2 linked regions of the Homo sapiens genome follow. The protein of the gene in region 1 interacts with the protein of each later gene in a pairwise test. Each region holds a gene or a part of one and is shown on either strand. Other genes may lie near its edges. The genes, in order: TSPAN2 and DCBLD2.

Region 1 (12,130 bases):
TGTGAATAGTGCTGCAGTGAACATGTACCCTTTTGACAGAATGACTTATTTTCCTTTAGGTATTTACCCAGCAATGGGATTGCCGGGTCGAGTGGTAGTTCAACTCAGTTGTTTGAGTCATCTCCAAACTGCCTTCTGCAGTGGCTGTACTGATTTACATTCGCAACATTGTATAAAGTGTCCCCTTTACTCCCAGCCTTGCCAACATCTGTTATTTTTGACTTTTTAACAAAAGCCATTCTGACTGGTATGAGATGGTATCTCATTGTGGTTTTGATTTGCATTTCTCTGATGATTAGAGATGACGAGCATTATTTCATGTTTGTTGCTCGCTTGCATGTCTTCTTTGGAGAATTGTCTGTTTATGTCTTTTGCCCACTTTTTAATGGAGTTATTTGCCTTTTGCTTGTTGATTTGTTTAAGTTCCTTACAGATTCTGGATATTAGACCTTTGGTGAAAGACATTTTTAAAACAATAAAGTGTTGAGGTAGTGGGGCCAACAACACTATTATTTTTAATATGATATCATTTCTCACATTACCACATCCATTCCCTCATGAAATTATTCTTTTAGAGAAAAGGGAAAGGGAGGAGGTGGTAGAGCTAGAACAGCAGGAAATAAATACCCACCTCAGGACTGCAGAGCAGCAAGGCCTCAGGGCCCTGAAAAGAACGCTGAGGCCAGGTCCGGGTGGGGCAGGAAGCAGAGCAGCCTCGCCTGTGGCTCCTACTAGGTCTGTAAACTGCCAGATCTGCCCGCAAACCACCATCAGCAACCCAGAGGCGCCCCAGGAAGCACCCTGAATGCCAGGCCCAGGGGTTCCCCACAGAGGCGGGGCACCAGCCCCCACCCTCCCTATTAATGGGAGTGGTTTCCAGGTGACTCATATGAGTAAAATGCAAAAAATGAAATAGAGACCATTAACATGATTCCAAGTAAGACAAGTGCCAAGTCCCATATTGTATTCTAACTTATCTCAGGATCAGAGAAGGAAATACAAAAAGGCTTGGCTTTAGTTCTCTCAGAACCAGAGCATTTCTGTCCTTTTCTTTCTCTGTAAGAACTGTACGTGGGGCTTGCCTAAGCAGTAAGTGAAATCCCCACCTGAATGATGGCTGCCTCCATCACTAGAGATGCAAGACAGAGTCGGAGTGTTGGGCAGGCTTTTGAGGCTCATGGCTATTTTTCTCCCGGCTCTGCCAAACACCAGCTCTATGACCTTAAGCAAATCGCTTTACCTTTTGGGGCCCAGTTCCTCCGTGTCAAACATGGCAGTAAGAATAGCACCTCCTTTTGGTACTATTAGAATGCTCTGCAGTGCCCAGAGTCTTAAGCCTAGTTGGTCGTGGAGGCACTCGGTTGGCTCTCAGTGGTCTCCTCTGACCTCTTCCCCACAGGGCTGTATGTTCTGGTTGGAGCCGGGGCCCTGATGATGGCCGTGGGGTTCTTCGGGTGCTGCGGAGCCATGCGGGAGTCGCAATGTGTGCTTGGATCAGTAAGTGGGGCGAGGGGGTAAATGGTGGGGTGGGGGTGAGGGAGCGGCCTGCATCTGAAGGGAGTCAGTGCCTCTGGCCCCTGGCTCCAGCTCCTCCGTGGACTCTCTGAGCCCTTGGCATGCACTTTTCCTCCCTCAGTCTTGGTTTCTCCATCTCTTATATATGAATAATACTAACTAGGGCCGGGTGCCATGACTCACGCCTGTAATCCCAGCACTTTGGGAGGCTGAGGCAGGAGGATCTCTGGAGCCCAGGAGTTTAAGACTAGCTTGGGCAACACAGGGAGACCTAGTCTCTACCGGGTGTGATGGCACACACCTGTGGTCCCAGCTACTCAGGAGGCTGAGGCAGGAGGATCACTTAAGACCAGGAGTTGGGAGGCTGCAGTGAGCCATGACTGTACCACTGCACTCCAACCTGGGCGACAGAGCAAAACCTTGTCTTGAAAAAAGAAAAAAGAAAAAAAATATTATCTTTGTTCCTGCCTTATATGGGAAGTGTGAAAAGAAATGACGTCATTGGTGTAAAGATGTTTTGGGAGTAAAAGTACTTAGTAATTGTAAGGGGTGACTATGATTGTTCTTTAAAAAAAAATATTTCACAGTGGGTGAGGCAGCTAAAAGGTTTCTATAGCCAGGGAAGTGCTGTTATCTACAAGGAAAACATTTATGTTTGAGATCAATAACTTAACCAAAATCCCTCTTGTGGCTTATTTTAACAAGCAACCTCTGTTTAAAACAAAAATCAAATAATTTCAATTAACTGCTATACATTCTATGTCAGTGTAGCCTGAGAGAAACAGAAAGGAAGAAGAGGGGCAGGAGGAGAGAAAGTGTTGATATTTCTCCACAGGGAGTCAGAAACAGCAGTTTTAATAGGCAGCCTCTCATCTCTCATTACTTATTGTGATATTTGGATTTTTAACTCTGGCCGTAGCCTCTGATCTCTTGCTATGTGAAATGTCTGACTTATTTCTTTGCCATTCATTCCTTCTCTTTCTCCTACTGTTGAGCACATTTCTGTCTTGTTTATCACTGAACTTAGTTTGATCAGAGCAAATCCATAGACCAGAACAGAAATCCATCCAGAAGGACACCCCTCACCTCATCTCCTCAAAGAAGCCTTTCCAGACCACAGAATCTCCAGTCACCCCCTTCCCCATGCCCAGGCCGCATCAGTGATGCTCCCTCTCCTGACCTTATTTTATATCTTTCTAGGTCTTTTGTGTTCGTCAAGTATTTACTAAGCACGTAGGTGCCAGGTGGTGTTCTAGGTGGTGGGATTTTTACATCACTACCTGAACTTATCTTATTCACTTTTTAACTTCTTTACACAGTTATCGTATATTCCTCTGTCCAATCCAAGGTCCGTGATAACAGAGACATTTGGATATTATCTTGTTCACCACTGAATAGTCAGCACCAAGGACAGTACCTGGTGCAGAATAAATGCCTAATAAACAATTGCTGAATGAATGAATGAATGAATGAACCACATGAAAGCGATTCAGCCATTACATAAGGAAACTAAGGTGCAAAATATATAAATTGAAAAGGTATTAAATTAATGAAATTAGTATTTTCTCTCCTCTACAGTTTTTTACCTGCCTCCTGGTGATATTTGCTGCTGAAGTAACCACTGGAGTATTTGCTTTTATAGGCAAGGGGGTAGTAAGTAAAATTACTTATAATGTTTTTCTATGATGGTTAAAAGTGTTAGAATATTGATACCCACAATAGTGTTAAGAAACCAAATAATCCCCATTATTATAGTTTAAACAGAACTTTTTAACTTAGAAGTGGTGTGCAGAACTGAGCATATATGTATATGAGTGTGCAGGCATATATACATGCTCACATTTTTCTGGGGAGATAGTTCATCTCTTCCATTAGACTTATGAAGTGGTCTATAATAAAACCAAAAAAAAAAGGATCTCTAATTTAAGATTCTTCCCCATTGTGAAATGGGGTAACAGTTAGAGTACAGACTTGAGAAAGAATCTAGATTCTCATCCCCTGTCAGACTGCCATTTGTCCTTAAGGATTGGCCTGGATGGGTCCATTTCATTCTCAAAGAGCAGAGCCTACACTGCTGTGGGCTAGTGAAGCCAGTTTATATTTGCTGCCCAACTCTAGGTGTCCAGAATAGGTTATCGGGGGGACACACAGAGGAAGTAGCCTTTCTTCCTCTGTAAAACACACTGTGGGATAGAAGAGAATGGAATGGAAAAGGAGGAAGAATGGAAACTTAAGTTTGGTGTATTTCACATTAACTCTTGTGTCATTAATATTATGTTTCTGAACTTATTTTAGACTATAAAACAGTAAACATGTAGAATAGTAAATGTCACCTCCTTTTGAATTTTTCTAAAGTAACTGGCTGTGTTCATAGGTTAGTTTAAATTCAGCTACATACAGAAGTAGAATGGAATCTTAGGACCTGTTGAGATATCTGTGGATTTGAAATCACAAGCTTTTATACTAGAAAAAGCATTCTCTAAGCTTTATATGATATCTGAATGTAGAAAGTTTTCCTTGGTGATGAATACCTTTTAAACCACGTCATAAAAAGATTTGAATGCTTTTAACCAATGGGGTAACAGGAATGTATAAGTCCGGATCCTAGCTATGCATCCAAATCATCTGGATGGAGCCCAGGAATCTGGGGCCCAGTTGATGCTGAAGCCCAGTTGGGCTTGGGAACTGTCAGAAATCTTTCTAGTCCATGAAAACTGTTCTGGTTAGTCTGTCCTTCCATCCTCAAAAGCATCTTAGAAACTCCAGAAACTATAATCTTCTCCATATGTTGCTGAATTATCCTAAAATACCTATGGAAAGGCAGTATTTTTTTTTATTTCTACAGGTTTTGTGGGGAACAGGTGGTGTTTGGTTACATGAGTAAGTTCTCTAGTGGGGATTTCTGAGATTTTGGTGCACCCATCACCCGAGCAGTGTACACTGTACCCAATGTGCAGTCTTTTATCCCTCACCTCACTCCTACCCTTTCCCCTGAGTCCCCAAAGTCCATTGTATCATTCTTATGAGAAAGGCAGTGTTTTTCAAAGGTGTGGAAGAGGAGATTTTCCTTGATGAAAGGAGAATGTTTGAAACTTCCCACCCAGAAGTCCTTCATTTTTCCTTGTATTTCTTCAGGCTATCCGACATGTTCAGACCATGTATGAAGAGGCTTACAATGATTACCTTAAAGACAGGGGAAAAGGCAATGGGACACTCATCACCTTCCACTCAACAGTGAGTAACTTCACTTCTTCCTTAAAATCACAGCTTCTAAAGATTATGTGTGAGCCAGGTTCTCACCAATCACCAGGATTAAAAATAAAAATAAATTCAGTAAAGCCAAGTAGCACCACCTATTTTAGCCCTTTTGAGGGCCACAGTTTGCATTATGTGTGGAACCCTAGAAGGGAAAGATGTCTATCACACAGAGTTCACAAGAGAGACAGAAGAGCATGAACCCAAAAGACACATGCCCCAAAGAGACAAAAGAGCACAAACAAGGTTACAGAGAAAGGAGCCCAGATAAATAGCAGGCTTTGTCAGAGGGTAGCATTGTGGTGTAACAGAAACAAGTGTGACCTGTAAGTCAGAAAAGCTAATTTCTAGCTGCAGCTCTACCATTCAACAGCCTTGTGACCTTGAGCAAGTTACTTGGCCTCCCTGATACCCACGCAGCTCCCTCATTTGTAGAATGAAGGGTCACAGGAGATGGCTACACTCCCTTCTGGAACATTCAGTGGGACTGTGCTGTCCGTGGAGTGCTCAGAGCTACATGCAGTTAATCACAGAAGGCTTACAGAGGAGATGGGCCAGGCCAGAGTTATTCTGATTTTTTAGACACTGTGATATGAAGAAGTAGCTGTGAATTCCTGGGCCAGGTGTTTTCAGGTACCTAGTTCTTGTCTAGGACAAGTATGTCTTGGAAAGTGGCCACCATTTATACATTTATACGGTTTCACCTCAGCTGCCGCCAGGACCTGAAGCAGCACACAGGTTCTTTTGTCTTAAAGGGCCAGCTAGCCTAAGCAGGACACCTGTTTGCTGGCCAATCTTCAAATCTGGTCTTTTGGACCCTGGAATTTCCTGCAGCCACTTCTCCCCTCTTCCCCAGACTATTCCCAGCTAATGAGTCCTTCTGCAGCTCATAAAACTTGAGCTCCTCAGCAGGTTAAATGACTCCCAGTCTGAAAGAAGGAATCTAAAGCCCCAACCCCTTTCTAAAAAGTAGCAATTTACACAGACACTGTCAATTAGCTTCTTGCCTTGTTTGGGTTGCCTTGAGTCACTTCCCATCATAAACTCAGATGGCTTTAGCGAAGTCATTTTCTTGTTTTGCCAGCATGATTATGTGATTCTTCACTCTCCTTCCAGAAATAGCAGTCTGGGTTGCAGTGACTGGGCCTCGGAGCTGCTTTGCCGCCTCGGCACCCCAGTCCTTAGCAGGGTGCCCAGACTTGTAGCTGCTACTCCTCCCGCCTGGTCCTGAAGTCTCTTTTCTGACTCTCTAGTTTCAGTGCTGTGGAAAAGAAAGCTCCGAACAGGTCCAACCTACATGCCCAAAGGAGCTTCTAGGACACAAGGTAAGCTTCTACCAAGGTTCTTACTCTACCTGTAGTATCATGCTGCTAGCTTAGGAAGCCATTGAAGGTAGAATCTCGGATGGGATCTGCATTTTACTGAATTTGCTCTAGTGGCAGCATAGAGGATTGATGGAAAATGAATAGCGTTGAGCTGAGAGACCCATTGGGAAGGCTGCTGTCCTTGTTGTTAGCAAGAGATGTTAAAGAGGGCCCTTTAGAAAGTGACAACTACAGGAGTGGTGACCAGAGAAGAGAGGAGAATCCATTACTGGGTTTTTGGCTTCACCACCTACATAGATGATGGTGTCATTTATGGAGCTGAGGGAGAGAGGAAAAGGAGCCAATTGTGGAGAAAAGAAAATGAGCTTTGTGTTTAACATGGTGATTTTGAGGAGCCAGTGGCACTTCCAAATGGAAATATCCAGTAGGCAGTTGGAAAATCTGGTTTGTGGCTCAGGAGAGAGGTCTGAGTGTCAGCACTTGATGGGAAACTTAAAGCTATAAATACGGATTTGATCCATTAGACTTGGAAGAAAAGAAGGATGAGGATAGATCCTTGGGGGACAATTTAAGGGTGGGCAAAAGAAGAGATGCCAAAGAAGGAAACTGGGAGGGGCGGCCAGACACAAGTGAGGAGACAGCACGGGAAGGGGAGGGAATGGTCACCAGGCCCAGGTGCTGCTGTTGAGGGCAATTCAGTATTGATCAGCTGCCTACCTTATGTTCGGCACTGTGGATGCAAAGGAGAAGGAGAAAAAGTTCCTACTCACAAGGAGCTTGCATTGCAGTCTGATAGGAGGGATGAACATGAAGTCCATACGGTCCAGTGATTAGGAATGCATGGAATGTGCAACGTGCTCGGAAAGCACAGAGGGAAACGCACTTAGGAGAGGCGAGAGGCTGGGGGATGGGGAAGGCTGACAGAGGTAATGATGTCTCAGCTAAATCTTCAAGAATGGAAAGTAATTATGCAAGCATTGGGCAGAAAGCGGGAGGGGGAGGCCTGCGTGCCGAGAGACCAGCGTAAGCAACAACACAGAGGCAGAAATGACATGGTTTGTGTGGGGAACTGAAAGCCTAAGAAGGTCTACTAATAACTGCTGAAAAGCTGGCAGGATTTAGCATGCAAGGAACCAACTGGTGACGTGCTGTGAGGGATGGATTGAGGACAGAGCCCAGGTTTCAGAGAGCGAGATGTGAGGAGAGAGAGCATCCTTTCAAGAAGTTTCGATTTGAGCCAAGGACACAGAAAGAAAGTTTACAAAAGTCAAAGTCCAAATTACCATTAAACATATAGAAAATATAGAAAATTAAAAGTAATATTTAAAATCAATAGCAAATTAAAATGAAGAGATGCTGTTGTTTAATCTATGAAATTGACCAAGTGTTTTTCCTTTCCCTTAACAATAATACACAGTTTTGGTAAACGTGATGTCGTGAGCATTTTCAGAGAAATTAGTAAATAGTTTTAAAGGTCAGTATGACTATGTAAGACTAGAGGATTAAGTATGTTTATGCCCTTCTATCCAGAAATTCCACTTCTCGGAGTTTATTCTAAGGAAAAGGAATCAGAAATGCAGACAGACGTTTTTGTGCAAATCATGCTCATTACATGTTATTCATAAGAACAAAACACTGGACAGACCCTTAATATGTGGCAATAGGGGATTGTTTGGATAAATTGTAGTATATTCATATGATGAAATGTTTTACCACCATTAAGAATCATGATTTCACCTGTAATCCTAGCACTTAGGGAGGCAGAGGCAGGCAGATTGCCTGAGCTCAGGAGTTTAAGACCACCCTGGGCAACATGGTGAAATCCCGTCTACTAAAAATACAAAAATTAGCCAGGCGTGGTGGCATGTGCCTGTGATCCCAGCTACTCAGAAAGCTGAGGCAGGAGAATCACTTGAACCTGGGAGGCAGAGGTTGCAGTGAGCCGAGATCGCGCCACTGCACTACAGCCTGGGTGAGAGAGCGAGACTCTGTCTCCAAAAAAAAAAATAATCATCATAATCATGATTTCAAAGAAATTTTTAGTGAAACAAGGCATTTTTAAAGTTGTAATATTAAGTTTAAAAAGCTCACTGTTGAATATAAAGAATGACCTAAGGGTGTAGGTGTGTTTGTGTGTGTAAGTATCACCAACAAATTTATTACCTTTTATGGTGAGAATACAGACATTTCTTTTTAAAAAAAAAAAAATCTCTTTTCCAGATTTCTACAAGAAGCATGTATTCCTTTTGTGACTAAAGCCAATATACCTTTTGTACATTTGTTTTTTACAAAAAGAAGCTGGCAATGAAGGGAAGGAGGGCCTAATGGCAGAACTAGAGGAGGACAGTCTCGAGTGTTGTTTTGTTTGTTTTGATTGAAGAACTGAGCATGGTGATAGGATAAGTAGAAATGTCAATGGATAAGGAGAGGCTGAATGTATAGGAAGGAAAAAAAGTAACTGGCAGTGCAGGCTTCCTGAGGAGCTGAAAGACCCAAAGCAGGATATGAAGTTAACTGTCTTTTATTATTATTTATTTATTTATTTATTTTGAGACAGAGTCTCACTCTGTTGCCCAGGCTGGAGTGTAGTGGCATGATCTCGGCTCACTGCAACCTCCACCTCCCAGGTTCAAGTGATCCTCCTGCCTCAGCCCCGCTAGTAGCTGGGATTACAGGTAGGTGCCACCATGCCCGGCTAATTTTTTTATTTTCAGTAGAGACGGGGTTTCACCATGTTGGCCAGGCTGGTCTCGATCTCCTGACCTTAGGTGATCCACGCATCTCGGCCTCCCAAGTGCTGGGATTACAGGCTTGAGCCACCGCGCCCAGCCATGAGGTTAACTTTCAACAGAGAAGGGCACCTCTTTGGCTCTGATCAGAGAAAAAGGAGTCAGGAGTGTGCTTGCTACCTACAGCAATGCCTGGCACTGAAGGAAGGGAGCATCTAAGTGTATAGGAGAAGGAGAGGAAGAGTGAAAGAATTGCTATAGGTTGACTCTCATTTTTTCCACTAAGTAAGGGAGCCACTCCTTAGAAGAGTAGTTTTCAAACTTTTGTCAGAATGCATTATAGGTATCTCTTGTGGATCTGTGTCCTCTAAACTGTGAATTCCCAGAAAGCAGGAGAAACCATATCCTATTGTCTCTGCATCTACCACCCCTCTTCCAGTGACTAATGCAAGGTAGATGCTCAAGAAATGTTTGTTGAATGAATGAAGTGTGATAGGAAATACGAAGAGAGAAGTAAGGGTTTTATATAGCTCAGATGGTATCAAAGGAACCAACCAGTGACAAGTGAACAGATCTGAACAACCTGAGGGTACAGTTGGATTGAGAGCATCCCTCTACTTAAGAGCACTCCAAATAGGAGTGTTTGAAGTTGGAGAAACTAATAATAGTTACAGGTGATCTATTTGGCTTTCTGTCTAAGTTTCCCCACATCCATGAAGGCCCTTTGAATCTATGCTGCACAGGTGTCTTATGGGCACAGATGAAAGGATAGGAACTCACCCAGCACAGCCCAGCCCAGCCACCACAGGAGAGAATGGTCCTCTAGCTCCAAGACTTGGCTTTTCTAATTCTTGGCTTTCCTTTGTTTAACTTGAACCTGTTAAGACTTTTTAGTTTCTTAATAGGTCATGCCTACTTTGCATAGTAAATTGGGTCAAAGACATAGAAAGTATTTTAAACTGTAAATGACAATATGAAAACAAAGAGTTATTGTTTTAAGGGTATTTTACTTATTTGCTACAAGTAAGAAGTGGCTCCAAATTTTTAGATTCCTTGGAACCAGACAAATAGCTTCCTCCAGTTATATTTCAGGGCTCCGAAGAAGCCACTGGCCTAAACATGAAAATCTCACCCAAAGGAGAGGCTTCTATTTTTTTCCCCAAACTGCATTTTTGCATTAAGCTTATTAGGATGATGTTATCAAAGATGAATTGTTGAAACATGAGTAGAAGCTGGCATGGATTAACTCTCACAGAATGAACTGTAGAGATGGAAAGGATAGGATCAGGATAATGACTGACACATACAATCAGTTTTTATTCCCGACTTTTTTTCCTCAAAACAGAATTGCATCGATGAAATTGAGACCATAATCAGTGTTAAGCTCCAGCTCATTGGAATTGTCGGTATTGGAATTGCAGGTCTGACGGTGAGAAAGTTCTAGAACTTACCCTTTTTGCCCTCTAAAAAGCCTTGAAACTTTGCATCTTATTTCTTTTCAAGTGTGATAGTATCTTAAGAGAGAATTCTCATAAAGAAAAAAGACCTTTGTTCACAATGTATTACATCTTCTAAGAACAAAGCTCATAAATATATTAATAGTTTGTCCTCTAAAATATAATAGAAATTTCAACTTTAACTCATTATGACCTTGAGTGTGTCATTGTTATTAACTTCCCGTTTTAAGGCTACTATCCATAACCTAGATAAATGATTTTCAGTTCTGGGTCTCTTTCTACTGTTACAAATTCAATGCAACATATCAGGTTAATCTCTCTCACCTACGATTTGAAGAGGCAGCAGAGCATAGAGATTAATAGGGCGAGCTCTGGCATCACATGGTTTGGATTTAACTCTAGGCTCCACCATTTGCAAGCTCTGAGATCGCAGGAAAATTTCTTAATTTTTCTATACCTCAATTTCCTCGTCTGTTAATATATAAACCTTATAGGATTGCCGTGAAAATTAAATGGGATACTACATATACAGTAGTATTACAAATTAATATAAATAAAGTGTCTGGGACATATAACACTCAACAAATGCCAGCTCTCTGCATAATCTACCAGGCAAAGGCAATGGCATAGATGGTATTAAGCGTAGTGCATCCAGACCACCACCAGGTGGCTCTGTACTTCTAAAGTACAAAAGAAGAGTGTGTGGGAAGAATGGATAGCAGCGGACAGGTATGGCAGGAGTTGCGAGAGGTGGTAATGGAGAGAGTATTCGATCTACATCATTGAGATCTTTGTATGCCCCTTTGAAAGGGTGGGCTTCACCCTTAAGGAAAGGGGAGTCACCAAGAGTTGGAAGAACCTGTGGTAGAGGATAGAGGAAAGGTTGGAGGGAGGCAAGATTGGATTTGGAAGGCGGGTTAAAGGATGATTTCCATTGTCCAGGGGTTGGATGATAATAGCTAATGCTAAGATGGCACTTAGTCTCTAGCCCTCTATGTAGATTAATTCATGGCCTAAACTAAGGCAAGGGCTGTGGGAATTGTGAGGAAATCAGTGAATTTGCAGTTATCAGGGGACACACAAGCGCCTTCCCCTTTTCTGTATTTAGAGCACAGAGGGGTGGAGAAGTGGCTGGAAATACTCTGCTGAGGCCCTCCAAATCAAGGGACATTTCTCAGGTCCTCCCCACCTGCTCTGGGGATAGCCTGGCTGCAGTTCTGCAGCTCCCCAAAGGACAGTCCTGAGGCAGGTCTGAGCGTGTGCTGCATAATGGAGAGTTTCACAATCTCAGCAAATGAGCAGCCTAGAAGCATTCACCCCTGACTCGTGTCGGCAGTAGGCTGAGACTGAAGGAGTCTCACTGAAACCAGGATGGGTAGGGATTACATCCAACCTTATGGCAATGATAAAGGGGAAATGCCCATAGTGAGCCTATCTTGAGTCGGCACCCCCAGGTTTCTTCGTTAGTTCTTTTCTCTGTAAAGTGAGAGTTGCACAATGTAATCAGCTAACTAAAAGTGCATTGGGTGTCGCCCGTGCTACACACTGGTACTGAGTCCTGTCATCCAGAAGCTTGAAATCCTGTTCCTGGCCATGCCCTTACCTGCTTCTGCCCCTCCCTTTTCAAAACAACTGATCATTCATATCTTATTGAATTTAGCACTTACAGATCCTAGTCTGACTTAGGATGGAATTGAGGAGAGAACCAGAAAGTTATAGTACCCATTTTTTAAAATAAGCATTGACAGTAGTTTATGGAATGGTGCCCACAGATAGGGTTCCATGGGCTCTACAAAATTGTAGGGGAAATAATAGCGGACAAGAAGACTCTTTGGCATTCTTCTATTCA
Region 2 (13,007 bases), on another chromosome or scaffold:
TCATTAGTTTCAAAGAACTTCTTGTTTTCTGCCTTAATTTCATTATTTACCCAAGAATCATTCAGGAGCAGGTTGTTCAATTTCCATGTAGTTGTGTGGTTTTGAGTGAATTTCTTAATCTTGAGTTCCAATTTGATTGCATGGTGGTTTGAGAGACTGTTTATGATTTCAGTTCTTTTGCATTTGCTGAGGAGTGTTTTACTTCTGATGATGTGGTCAACTTTAGAGTAAGTGCCATGTGGCAATGAGAAGAATACATATTCTGTTGTTTTTAGGTGGAGAGTTCTGCAGATATCTGTCAGGTCCACTTGACCCAGAACTGAATTCAGGTCCTGAATATCTTTGTTAATTTTCTATCTGAATCATCTGTCTACTATTGTCAGTGGGGTGTTAAAATCTCCCACTATTATTGTGTGGGAGTCTAAGTCTCTTTGAAGGTCTCTAAGAACTTGCTTTGTGATTCTGGGTGCTCCTGTATTGGGTACATATATACTCAGGATAGTTAGCTCTTCTTGCTGAATTGAACACTTTACCATTATGTAATGTCTTTGTCTTTTTTTTTAATCTTTGTTGGTTTAAAGTCTATTTTGTCAGAAACTAGGATTGCAACCCCTGCTTTTTTCTGTTTTCCATTTGCTTGGTAAATTTTCCTCCATCCTTTTATTTTGAGCCTATGTGTATCTTTGCATCTGAGATGGATCTCTTGAAGACAACATACCGATGGGTCTTGGTTCTTTATCCAGCTTGCCATTCTGTGTCTTTTAATTGGGGCATTTAGCCCATTTACATTTATGGTTGGTGTTTTTATGTGTGGATTTGATCTTGTCATCATGATGGTAGCTGGTTATTTTGCAGACTTGAAAAATATGGAATGCTTACAAATTTGCGTGCCATCCTTGTGCAGGGGCCATGCTAATCATCTCTGTATTGTTCCAATTTTAGTATATGTGCCACCGAAGTGAGCACCCAATTTCAATTCTATTCTCTTCGTTCTTAGAAAATAAAAATTTGAATTATTATATTATTATTTGCTTATCCTAGTGTGAAAGATGTCACTTGCCTGGACGATTCCAAATCCTCTAGCTTGCTATGGTTCAAACATCCTGACTTATATAGGGATGGGAACCTAGTTTCTTGTCAAGAGAGTGGGGAGTGGCGTGAAGATTTAAGTTTCTCAAAATCTCTAGTTATAGTAGTCTTCTGCTTCCTCTGAATCCTTGATCCATGCTTTCATTTCACCACCTGCTGATGCTGCCCTTGTTTATGTGGAAATAGGCATGTCCTCCACTCACAGTGCCCAAAGTCTCCCCCAATCAAGGCTGTGATTGTAGTAAACTTAATGAAGAGTTTGGGAGGAAGGCAAGGGGAAGATTACAGTATAGCATATATAGCAAACACCTTGAAATTATTTATTAGATATCCCTATTTTTAAAGCATCTTTGCATTGAAATGAGTGGGAAATTATATTTCTTACATCTCTGAAGCTCCAGCTTCCTGCCAAGTTGCTAACCAGCTTTATTTCCTCTGACCTGGCCCCATCTCCTCTCTGAAAAGGTTACCCTGCCTGTCCAAGGTTCTGTTCGCTTCTTTCACAGAATAAAACTGGGGCTATTCATATAGCCTCCATTCATTAAGACATTGCTGGGATGCAGTTGGGGGACCTGAGGATTATTTTCCAAATCAAACACACCCTTTAAGGTGCACTGGTGTTCAGCAAAGACAATTATTTCCCAGAGACCAATTCTGTAGTTATCAGCGTTTGGTTCTTTTCCCTCCTCATTAGGTAGAAATCTGGGAACTGAAGACTTAGAATTTGACGTGAGGTGAAAGGGAGATGTGAATAAAGAAAATTTGGAAGTATTATCAAACTTCAGATTTAGAATAGGATCCCATCATTTTCTGTTATGGGCAAGGAAACTGAGGTCTAGAGAGATTAGGAGCCTTGCTGGAGGTTATATAGCACTTTCAAGCAGAAATTGTATACAAGAGTCTTATCTAGGGCTGTTTCCATTATCTCACAAAACTTAATTTCTCAGAATCCAAAGAGCATTTCAACTCTGTACATCTAATTCTCAACTGCGTTGCCAGCAAAAGTCCCACAGGAAAGGATACAGGCATATAGCAGGGGAGGCCTGCAGGTTACCTAAATCATATTATCTCAGATATACTAGCATGGTCACTATTCACATTTTACTGCTATGTTAACCATCCATGTATAATTAATTTCCTAATTTCTAGGCATGATAATAATGTTATGGAAGGCAGTTTTCACATGCTTTTACTAAAATCCTTTGAAATCTCCATCAGAGATAAAATACTAGACTGAAGCCTTCTTCTTGTCATGACCCATAAGAAAATGAATTGGTTAATTTCCTAAAGTTCCTAGAAAAACCAAGAGTGTGAGAGAGACTGGGGCAAGAGATGGAGAGAGAGAAAGAGAGTAAGATGGTTGCAGTAGATGAAGATGCAAATGGAAAATGCTAAAAGTTAGTCATGTTGCTGATATATACAAATGTTAATCTTTTAAGAGAAATATTTAACATTATCATCCACTGGCAGAAATTAAATACCTTCTATAATAAATTAGATTTCTGGCACTTTTGCCTTAAATTTGCTATAACAAATATCTTTTAAAAAGTTTATAAGTGTTAAGAAAATATGAGTAATAAACTTAGGAGAGTTGACTGAAATAAGTAACTGAAAAAAGCATACAAGATAAAGAGAAAAATGTGTCCAAAACACTTCTGTTCACAGAAAGAAAGTGTCTTCAGCGGAATTCAGACATTTAGCAGCAAAGTTGGCTGTAAACATTTTCCCAAACAGTCAACAGGACAAAGAAAATGCTCCTGTGAGAACAGTAACCAGATCTTAAGGCTCTGGTCTTTGATGTTTGAAGTATTTCCCCAGAACTGCCACAATCTTCTTTCTCTCCTACCCCACTGGAAGATCACAAAAGTACATTCTTGTTCATTCCCTCTTTCTGTTATCCTGCCAAAAATACACAGTCACTGATAAAGCTCACCAATGATTCATTACATACCATCCTCCTAAGGTTTCCAGTATAAATGCCATTTTTAATGAGCCTCTTTTGTTTCATTAATGCTAACAGACATTTAATAGCAATGATGGGTGCCAAATGATTCTTACGGTACCATTTCATTGAAACCCAGATGTTTCTGCACAGACAGAAACAAAGGCACCAGCCCCCAGGTTCTTTTCCTACATTCTAATTTCCTTAGCAGTTGGCTGAGCTTGGATTCATTTGAAAGTAGGAATAGTAAAATGTAACTATTCTTTTTATATTTCCCCTTTTCCCTATAGATTAATTTGATTTTCTTCATTCTTCCATTTTTTTTTTTTTTTAATGAGACGGAGTTTCACTCTGTCACCCAGGCTGGAGTGCAGTGGTGCATCTCGGCTCACTGCAAGCTCCACCTCCTGGGTTCATGCCATTCTCCTGCCTCGGCCTCCCGAGTAGCTGGGACTACAGGCACCCGCCACCACCACACCCGGCTAATTTTTTGTATTTTAAGTAGAGACGGGGTTTCACGGTGTTAGCCAGGATAGTCTCGATCTCCTGACCTCGTGATCTGCCCGCCTCAGCCTCCCAAAGTGCTGGGATTACAGGCATGAGCCACTGCACCCGGTCTTTTTTTTTTTTTTTTTTTTTGAGAGGGAGTCTTGCTCTGTCACCCAGGCTGGAGTGCAGTGGAGCAATCTCGGCTCACTGCAAGCTCCGCCTCACGAGTTCACGCCATTCTCCTGCCTCAGCCTCCCGAGTAGCTGGGACTACAGGCGCCCGCCACCATGCCCGGCTAATTTTTTGTATTTTTAGTAGAGACAGGGTTTCACTGTGTTAGCCAGGATGGTCTCGATCTCCTGACCTCGTGATCCGCCCGCTTCGGCCTCCCAAAGTGCTGGGATTACAGGTGTAAGCTACCGCGCCCGGCCTATTCTTCCATTCTTTACTGATTAAGAAACATGAAATAAAGAATGAGAAAAAGAGGAAGAGAGATAAAAAATTAAAATTTAGGTTGAGAATCTATTTTTATTTTTAAATATCTTAATGTAGAGTAAACAACCAGAAATACAATAAAATAATACACACTTTTGAAACCCTGTAAAAAGAAGCCAGAACCTGGGCTTGCCTTGTGGAGGAACTGTAGCTTCTTGGAGCCTCTATGTGCTACAATGATGGCCCTCTCCAAACCTATCCACTTTGAGACTTGATTAGAATCCCCAGTTCTGCCCCTGGGTTATGCATCTGGGTTGCATGGGTAAAATGGTCCTGGACAAGTATTGCTCCCACTGCCTCATAAGATGTCATTCCCCAAACAAACCAAGTCCCCAGAAGCAAGGATCATGACAAAGTTGTCTAGAGCAGCATGCAGAGAATAAGAAAGGTAATATAAACTAGAATTCCACTTTACCCGCATTGTCTTAGAAATGAATGCCTATTATATTCCTTTGGTGTGAGGTCCCAGGAGAAAATTTTGATCATTTCAGAGCAGCCTTCTGTCATTGTTTGGCAACTAAGTAGAGAGACAATAATCAGAAGAGAGAATATGGGTGCAACAGCATCAATCCTCTCCCACATCTGTGCTATATTTGTAATTTTCTATATACATAAAGCAATAGGGGGCACCACAAATGTTCTCTAGCCAGACTTCCAGACCCTGTCTTCCAAAGCGAAACTCCGGAAGCTGAGGCATAAAATAACACAGAAATAGTCAAATGGCATCAGTCACTAAGACCTTCTGATTTTGCTGCTTTAAATATAACTCCAACTTGCTCCCACCTCCCTCTCTTTTTCCCTGCCAGTGACCTAATTCAGAACCTCTTCACCTCTCTAGTCTCTACTTTTAACAACTTTAAAACACTAGACAGTAAGTAAAACAGTGATGAGAAATGTAAGTGCTCCTTCCTCTTGCTTTACACGTATGTAGTCGGGATCTTTTCCTGCTATATTAAAGGGGTAGGGGTTGCTAGAGACCAAATTTTGCCTCTTCCAGAAATGCTCCATAACTGTGCTAGTTCTTAGGTGAATTCTCTGCCTCTGCCACAGTTCTATGTAGTCAATAGAATGCCAGGCTAAGATTCACACTACCTTGCTCTGCCACCACATCTGTGACCTCAAGCTTCTCTTTCAATGGTCCTATGAAAGGAGTGATTCCACATGAAATAGGTTGTCTCAGGCACTACTACTAGAAATCTTATTTCATGACTGACTGCTTGCCACATTAGCACATCATGTCTGATAGGTTCAATTCTGAATTTATGATTTTTAACTTCTACTTCTTTATCCAACCAAACCAATTCTCCTTCTTGTACTCCTTACTGTGGGAAAGACATCACCTTCTACCAGAAACCTGGAGACTTCCTCAACTCCTTACACTCCACATAATCAGTCACCAAGTTTAAAAATATTCCCCTAGTTGGTCCCGCCTTCCCAAGCCCACTTTTAATGCACTAAAAACTCACCATCACTCCCTTTAACTGCAGACTGGCTCTCCCTGGCTTCCAGTCTTGCTCTTACACCAATGTATTCCTCACCCTACTGGCTGATTGGGGTTTTTACAATAAAAACCTGATAATGACCGGGCGCGATGGCTCACGCCGTTATCCCAGCACTTTGGGAGGCTGAGGCGGGTGGATCACCTGAGGTCGGGAGTTCGAGACCAGCCTGACCAACAATGGAGAAACCCCGGCTCTACTAAAAATACAAAATTAGCCGGGTGCGGTGGCACATGCCTGTAATCCCAGCTACTAGGGAGACTGAGGCAGGAGAATCGCTTGAACCCGGGAGGCAGAGGTTGCAGTGAGCCGAGATCATGCCATTGCACTCCAGCCTGGGCAACAAGAGCAAAACTCCATCTCAAAAAAAACAAAAACAAAAACAAAAACAAAAAAAAAACTGACAATGTCATTCTTTCTTAGAACCCTTTAGTTATTTTCCAGTGATACAAAATAAAATCTTGACTCTTAGCTTGCCTTACATCTTGCCCCTCCTAACTTTTCCAGACTAGTCTCCAGTTCCTCCCATTACGTCAGCAGTAGTCAATCCAGCTCCATCAACACCATTCCCTATTGAGCCTGTGACCCAGCCTATTTTGCCTCTGGCCTGAGATCACCTTTTTCACTTTAGTTTCTTATTCAAGACACTGGCATTTCAAACTGACGGGTTTTTTTGAACTCCGTTCACTGTGGTATTGTGGCACCAGTCCACACCTCTAACAGGGCACTAATAACAATAGGTTTGTTTACATGTCACCTCCTCCTCCAGAATGTAAGTTCTTCTCAGTAAACTTTTTATGCCCAATGCCCACAATGGCTTAGAGCATAATAGGGTTTCTTAGGCATTTAATAAATGTTAATTGAATAAATTTGGTTAAAGAGATTATTGTATAAGAAATATGCAGGGGAGTTGAAACATACGACCTCCAAAGTCCTTTCCAACTTAGACTTTCATTGAAGGATATCAGTCCCTTCCATGTTTTTGAATATCACATCTATGTATGACTATGTATACATATGTATATGTATACATGTATGGCTATGTATGACTCCCAGAGCCATAATTTCAAAGCTCTCAATCTGAGCTTTCGACTAAAATATCCATCTGCCTGTTACATAGCTTCACTTATTATCTAAGTTGGCATCTCAAATTCAATACGTCCAAAATTAACTTACTTTCCCACACAACTTGTTCCACCTTAGCAGTTTTTTGTATTTGCTAATGACACCATTGTCCTTTCAGGGACTGCTGTTAAAAACATCCTACATGGCCACTCTCTTCTAAAATAAATCACTGCGTAGACCTCTGCATTCCTCTTTCCTAAAATTCTTTTTGTCGTTCCATAGGCTTACAGTCTCCATCAAACTGCTTGTGACTCTAATTAGCACTTACTTCATTCTGACTTGCATGCTATATTTCCATCTCTGTTCCACATTTCAAGATTTCTGTAGATAGACAGCAGGTGCTCAACAACTCCTTGTAGAATGGCTGCATGAAGGTTGGGATGTTAGGTTTAAATTGCCTTTGCGGCACGGATCTTGTTTTACACTTTTTTGTCCCCCACCCCCCGCCATAAAAAGAGCAGAGAAAACAGGGAACACATATATTAAAAACTGAACACTGCATCTATTATTCTAACTCGGAGCTGTTGCAACAACTGGCGGCAGTTTTAACAAAACAAGCCACGCTCTGCCATTAAAAAAAAAAAAAAAGTCCCTTAGACTCAGCTCCCAGCTAAAACAACCCAGGATCCAGGTTTCCCACCCCCTTCCAGTGGTCTGATGTGCGTCGGAGGAGCGAGGAGAAAGGAGCAAGGAGCAAGCTGGGCCTGAGGAGCAGGGAGCGCGGGATGGGGGACGTCCCGGAAGTCACTGACGAGCTGGCTGCCGCCTCTGCGGGATCAGTTTGGGCTGAGGGCCCAACAATAACAGGCGCCCGGGCCGGGCGGGGGCCGCGGGGATCCGAAGCTGGAGGGCGGGACCTGGATTGGAGGAGGCGGGTGGGACGCCTCCAAAGGCCGAAGGGGATTGGAAGAGGGAGGTAAGGGGCGGTGGAGCTCGAGGAATGGGCCGGAGAACTAGCGGGTCGAGCGAGGAGCGAGCATGCTGATTGGGTTTCGCGGAAGGAGACGGACCAGAGCTGGCCGAGGATTGGCCGCGGTGCCTAGGGGGCGTGGCCGGCGCGCGCGAGAGGGAGCGCGAGGGAGCTGGCTGCGGGCCTGCCTGCCAGCTAGCCGGAGCCGCGGGTGAGCGCGGCGAGCGGCGACCCTGGTGAGGAGCGCGGCGCGGGAGGCACGTTCCTTAGCTCCGCCGCGGCCGTCCTCCGCGGCTCGAGGACTCCGCTTCCTTCCCTCCCCTCCCCTGCGCTCCGGCCTGGGGTCTCGGCGCGGGGAGCGGAGGGAAGGGACGAAGGAGGAGTAGGTGAAAGCGGGGTGAGGGGCGGAAGGGTCCCGGCGCGGGGTGAGGCGAGGGCTGCCTCTTGTTCTCCCGCCGCTGCCGCCGTCTCCTGGTCGGGTGCCGCGGCCAGAGGCGCGCGGGGCTGCCGAGGCACCCGCACTATGCAGGCAGACTGCCGGCCGCCGCGATGGCGAGCCGGGCGGTGGTGAGAGCCAGGCGCTGCCCGCAGTGTCCCCAAGTCCGGGCCGCGGCCGCCGCCCCCGCCTGGGCCGCGCTCCCCCTCTCCCGCTCCCTCCCTCCCTGCTCCAACTCCTCCTCCTTCTCCATGCCTCTGTTCCTCCTGCTCTTACTTGTCCTGCTCCTGCTGCTCGAGGACGCTGGAGCCCAGCAAGGTGAGTGGTCCCAGGGGAGTGAGCGGCGGGGGAACCTCCGTCGGGGCTGCGGGTCTCTTGGCCCCTGAACAAATCTGCAGACGCTGCAGGGAGGCGCGGTGCGCTTTCGTGCGTGGCCGGACCTGGCTGGGTACTCACGGGGTTGAGTTGCAAAGGCAAGGTCTTGCCCGTCTGTCCCCCAAGTTGGCGCGGCTTTACTTTTTGGCAAGGCCATTTATTTTTCTGAAAGGGGGACGTGAGACCCTGCTATGAAAGCCTCGTTGATATTAGGTCCTTCTGGGGAAAATTTTGGGGAGGAAAAAGAACCTTTGGAGGTAATGACCCCTAAAGTTAAGCTGCACGGATGGATGGACACTGTAGGAAGGCAGGTTAATTAAATAGCATCTTAAGCCTATTAAAGGTAAGTGGTGGTAATTATGATCCTTTGTGAAAGAGCCCGGGTTCTGAAGCGAATGGAATAGTTTCTGCTTATCTCTGAGTCTTGGATTCAGAACATGTTCTTTACAATCCATCATTGAGGCTGGTGGTCTAGACTGCCTTGGTCAAACACTGGGTCTGACCCAACGCTATGCTAATTTGCCCAAGTGAAGCTCTCCACATTAAAAAGGTAAGCCTTTCCAGAAAGTGACAAAACTTTTTTTTTTTTCCACCTACAATCCTTGAAAAACCTGTTCCAGAAACAGGCAAAACTGTTTATTAAATACTTATCATAATGGAAGGAGAATGCAGGGTGATTTCTTTTCCCCTTTAGTACTGTTTTCCCGTAGTGTACCACACTTTTTGAATCAGTTTGGCATCAGTTTTTGAAAAGATATTTCCATTGCATTTTCCATTTTATTGCAGTGGGAAGGATAAGGATTGGATTGTTACTTATTGCTAGGAAGAGAGTTTTTTAAAAAGAAAATTGTTCTCTGCCTTTAAGCCCAGCTTTATGTTGCTCTCATGGTTTTCAGTGAAGTATGGAATCATGGCCTGTCATTAAGAAGATGCCGAACCTTGACAGGCATGTGGAAATATAATCTCTGTAACTATAAGGAAAAAATGTATTTGGCAAACTGACCCCTTACATCTAGACACGTTTCTATATAGAGTAACTCAAAATTTAGATGCTTAGCATTTAGGTTTTAGTTAGATCGTCTTCTAAAATTACTGAACATCATCATCATTTAATATATTAAAGTGTGAAATCCTTCTTTCCACTGTAGAGATGTATTTCCCTCCTGGTAGGGGGGAAAACAGGCTTATATATGGCTAACACTTAGGGCTTACTTTGTGGCTGGAACAACTGGACTAAGTGGTTTGGGTTTATTAACTCCTTGAATCTTCACTACAATCAGCTGAGATAGTTATTGTTATCCCAGTTCAAACGTAAGGACATTGAGACACAAAGAATATAAGGTACCTTGATGCAGGAGGGCATATTACTCCATAGGCAGAGTACTCTGCTTTGCTTGTTTCTGGATCTGATAGTGTTTGTATCATGTTATTAAAAAAAATCTTGGAACAGTATAGAATCAGTTACATGTCTACCTTCCAAATGAGGGATTGCCTTGTTTTTAGAAAAGGCCAGTCTACCGGGCGCGGTGGCTCACACCTGTAATCCGAGCACTTTGGGAGGCTGAGGCGGGCAGATCACGAGGTCAGGAGATCGAGACCATCCTGACCAACATGGTGAAACCCCGTCTCTCCTAAAATACAAAAAATTAGCCGGGCATGGTGGCACATGCCTGTAGTCCCAGGTACTCAGGAGGCTGAGGCAGGGGAATCGCTTGAACCCGGGAGGCGGAGGTTGCAGCGATCGCGCCACTGCACTCCAGCCTGGCGACAGAGCGAGACTGTCTCAAAAAAAAAAAAAAAAAAAGAAAAAGAAATAGCCAGTCTAATCAGACAAGCAACATTACTTCATTTTTTAAGGTTTAATATAATTTTTTTTTACCAGAACATTTTAACAAATACATTTCTCTTTAACAGTGTCATCTTATGTAAACATCAACATAAATAGAAATGATTCTGATAATTAAAAGACTTTTTTTTTTTTTAGTTCTTCTAAATTGCTTGGGTAAATTTTGCTAAATCATTTAATATTTAATCTCTTTGTACCTCAGTTTTCTACATCATTAAGGTGAGCATGCATACCTATCTCATAGCTTAATATAAATGAAATGATAGTATGCAGGAATTTTGCAAAGGGAAAAGCTTAAAATAGCTATAAATGATTATTACTAATCTCGATCTTACTAAGTTGATAAATTAAGAGCTAATTAGGTATACATCATCTGAAAACTCACAATTATTTGAGATTTGAATTTTCTCATTTTTAAAAATTAAATTTTTTACTCAAAGGACCCTAAAGCAGCCCGTGGTGGAATTCCTTTTAAGCCAGTCTTCCCAGTCTAACAGATGTTCTTTAGGGTCTACTGATATTCCCTCACATAACCTGAAAAGAAGTCTGTTTAAAACACCTTTAGAATTTTTAATGGGATTTGTACATGTTGTAATGTTCAGCTACAAGGTAGAGTTTTTACTCTATAAGAAGTCTTAAGACTGGAAGGAAATAAACTGTTGACAGTTGTTGTCTTTTGGTGGTAAAATTGTGGGACATTTCTTTATACTTTTCTAAATTTTCTGTAATTCGCATATAGTCAGAATAAAAATTAAACTGCAAAAAAGGTTTCTTTGATAGATTTTTTTTCTTTATTTGACAACTGAAGGTAGAAATGCATCTAGTATGGAGAGGTAGAAATGTGCTTCAGTGTCTTTTTTCTTTCTGACATCATTTTGAAATAGCAGAATATATTACCTTCATTCCAATTAATGTCATACATAGCTATTCCTCAATAGATTTTCTGTTCACAATGACCTTTCTTTTTATTTGGCTCCGAATAAAATGTATCATTAGTTTGAAAACTTACCGACTTTTCACAACAGATGTATTTTAACCAGTTCTGTTTCACTTATAAATTTATAAATATATTCTGTTTACCTCTATTTATTATGTTGATGTTTCACATATGGCTTGTATTTGTGTAGAGTTCTAAGTTGGATATCAAGAAGTTGGTCTTCGAAATCTTTTTTATTGAAGACTTTTTTTCTGTAAAATGTACCTCTCAAAAAAATTAAATTGGTGAAACTTATGCTGGTAGCATATTTGCTATTGTATTAAATTTATTGGAAGTTGATGGTTTACTATGATTTTAGGTCTCTGGTTTCCATTATGACTGTAGGAATTTGGGTTACTTCATATCAGGAGCTCAGCTTCCTCATTTGTATCCTGGAAGGCTTGCCTACTTTCTTGGTTAGAATGTAATTTGAACATGGTAAAATATCAGGGAATTAATTCTTAAAAACCATTAAGCCTGATTTGTTTGGGCCTATTAATATATAACATGTTGTGAAGATATTAGTTTTTCTTTGCTAATTTAATCTGTGAAACAAATCAGGTTCATTCTTAAAAAGGATGTTTCAGTTATTTGAACATATTTGGAACCAATATGTGAAAAAGTTTATATTCTGTCAAGGAATGCCTTTATTTGCTTGTGATGCAGGGAAATATTTTTGAACAATATTTGTGAGTTGCCAGAAAATAAAAACTTATTTCTCTCTGCAAATAAACATTTGTAATTATTTTTCACATTGACATTAGGTTAATTTAGAAATTTCCATTGTCTTTTCTTTGTCTGATAAAACATTGGGGCTCTTATCCAGTTTTGTTCAGAAGCAAATAAATCAAAGCATCCTTTTCTGCTATATTTCTAATTAATTTTACAAAATGAAAATTAGAAGCAGCACACAATCCACACGTGTGAATGATCAGATTGAAACAGCACATTTTTGAAACTTGTAAATGAAAAATTGATTCTAAGATTGCAGGTAAATTATAGGTAGATTTCTCAGTGTTAGAAACAAAAAGAACATATTATTTTCCCTGGGGATAGTTGATAATTCCATTTGAACATCTGAGCCTCATTTTAAAGACAAACATGTAAAAATATCTTAAAATGGTGGAATTGGCATAAGTAAAATACCAGTAGTAGAATTAAAATGACAAATTAATTTCCAAAAGTTAATAGATCATGTATGTGGGAAAGGGCTAGATTTACATAGGAGTAGAATTTAAATTTAGGACTACACTTAGCAAAGTGACACTGGGAAGTGAAGCTCAGGTAGTAATGTTGGACATTAATTGAATGCATACAAGTAGACAGTTTCTGCTTCCACTTCTTGATATATTTGGAAGGATATGGAATGATGACCCAACAGTAGAAGGATGAGGAAAAGCTTCATAAAGATAGTGATATTTGCTAAGTGTGATTGTTGAAATATGAAGTGAGACAATTTGGCAATTTTTCTGATGTGGCTCCTGGATTCGGTTTTCTTTATAACAACCTTACGGCCATAGGACTTTGTATTTATTTTTAAATATTGTATGGATAACAATGATTATTACTCAAAACTAAAAACGTAGATGATTATCCACATTTCTGTCTTCTAATCCATCGACTTATAATTTTTAACTTTCCTTTCTATTACATATTCACATACCTGCATAATCTTTTGTAGTTGTAATTTTAATAGTGTGTTCATGTAAAATTAACTTATAGGCTAATTTAGCACACATAAGCATACCTACAAAATACAGTAAAACAAAAATTTCAAAATGCAAAATTTTATCATAAGACATTCAGTATTTATAAAGTAATTACT

The links.
Region 2: the proteins of TSPAN2 (region 1) and DCBLD2 interact in binary tests that used the Homo sapiens proteins (3 or more experiments, as listed by UniProt).

Annotation. Positions count from the first base shown.
Region 1 is NC_000001.11:115,051,502-115,063,631, reverse strand, and holds part of TSPAN2 (tetraspanin-2), read left to right. Parts: intron 1-1,399; coding exon 1,400-1,497; intron 1,498-3,093; coding exon 3,094-3,168; intron 3,169-4,650; coding exon 4,651-4,749; intron 4,750-6,023; coding exon 6,024-6,095; intron 6,096-10,169; coding exon 10,170-10,253; intron 10,254-12,130. UniProt on the Homo sapiens protein: May play a role in signalling in oligodendrocytes in the early stages of their terminal differentiation into myelin-forming glia and may also function in stabilizing the mature sheath.
Region 2 is NC_000003.12:98,896,418-98,909,424, reverse strand, and holds the start of DCBLD2 (discoidin, CUB and LCCL domain-containing protein 2 precursor), read left to right. Parts: upstream 1-7,729; 5' UTR 7,730-8,098; coding exon 8,099-8,303; exon of another isoform or gene 8,304-13,007.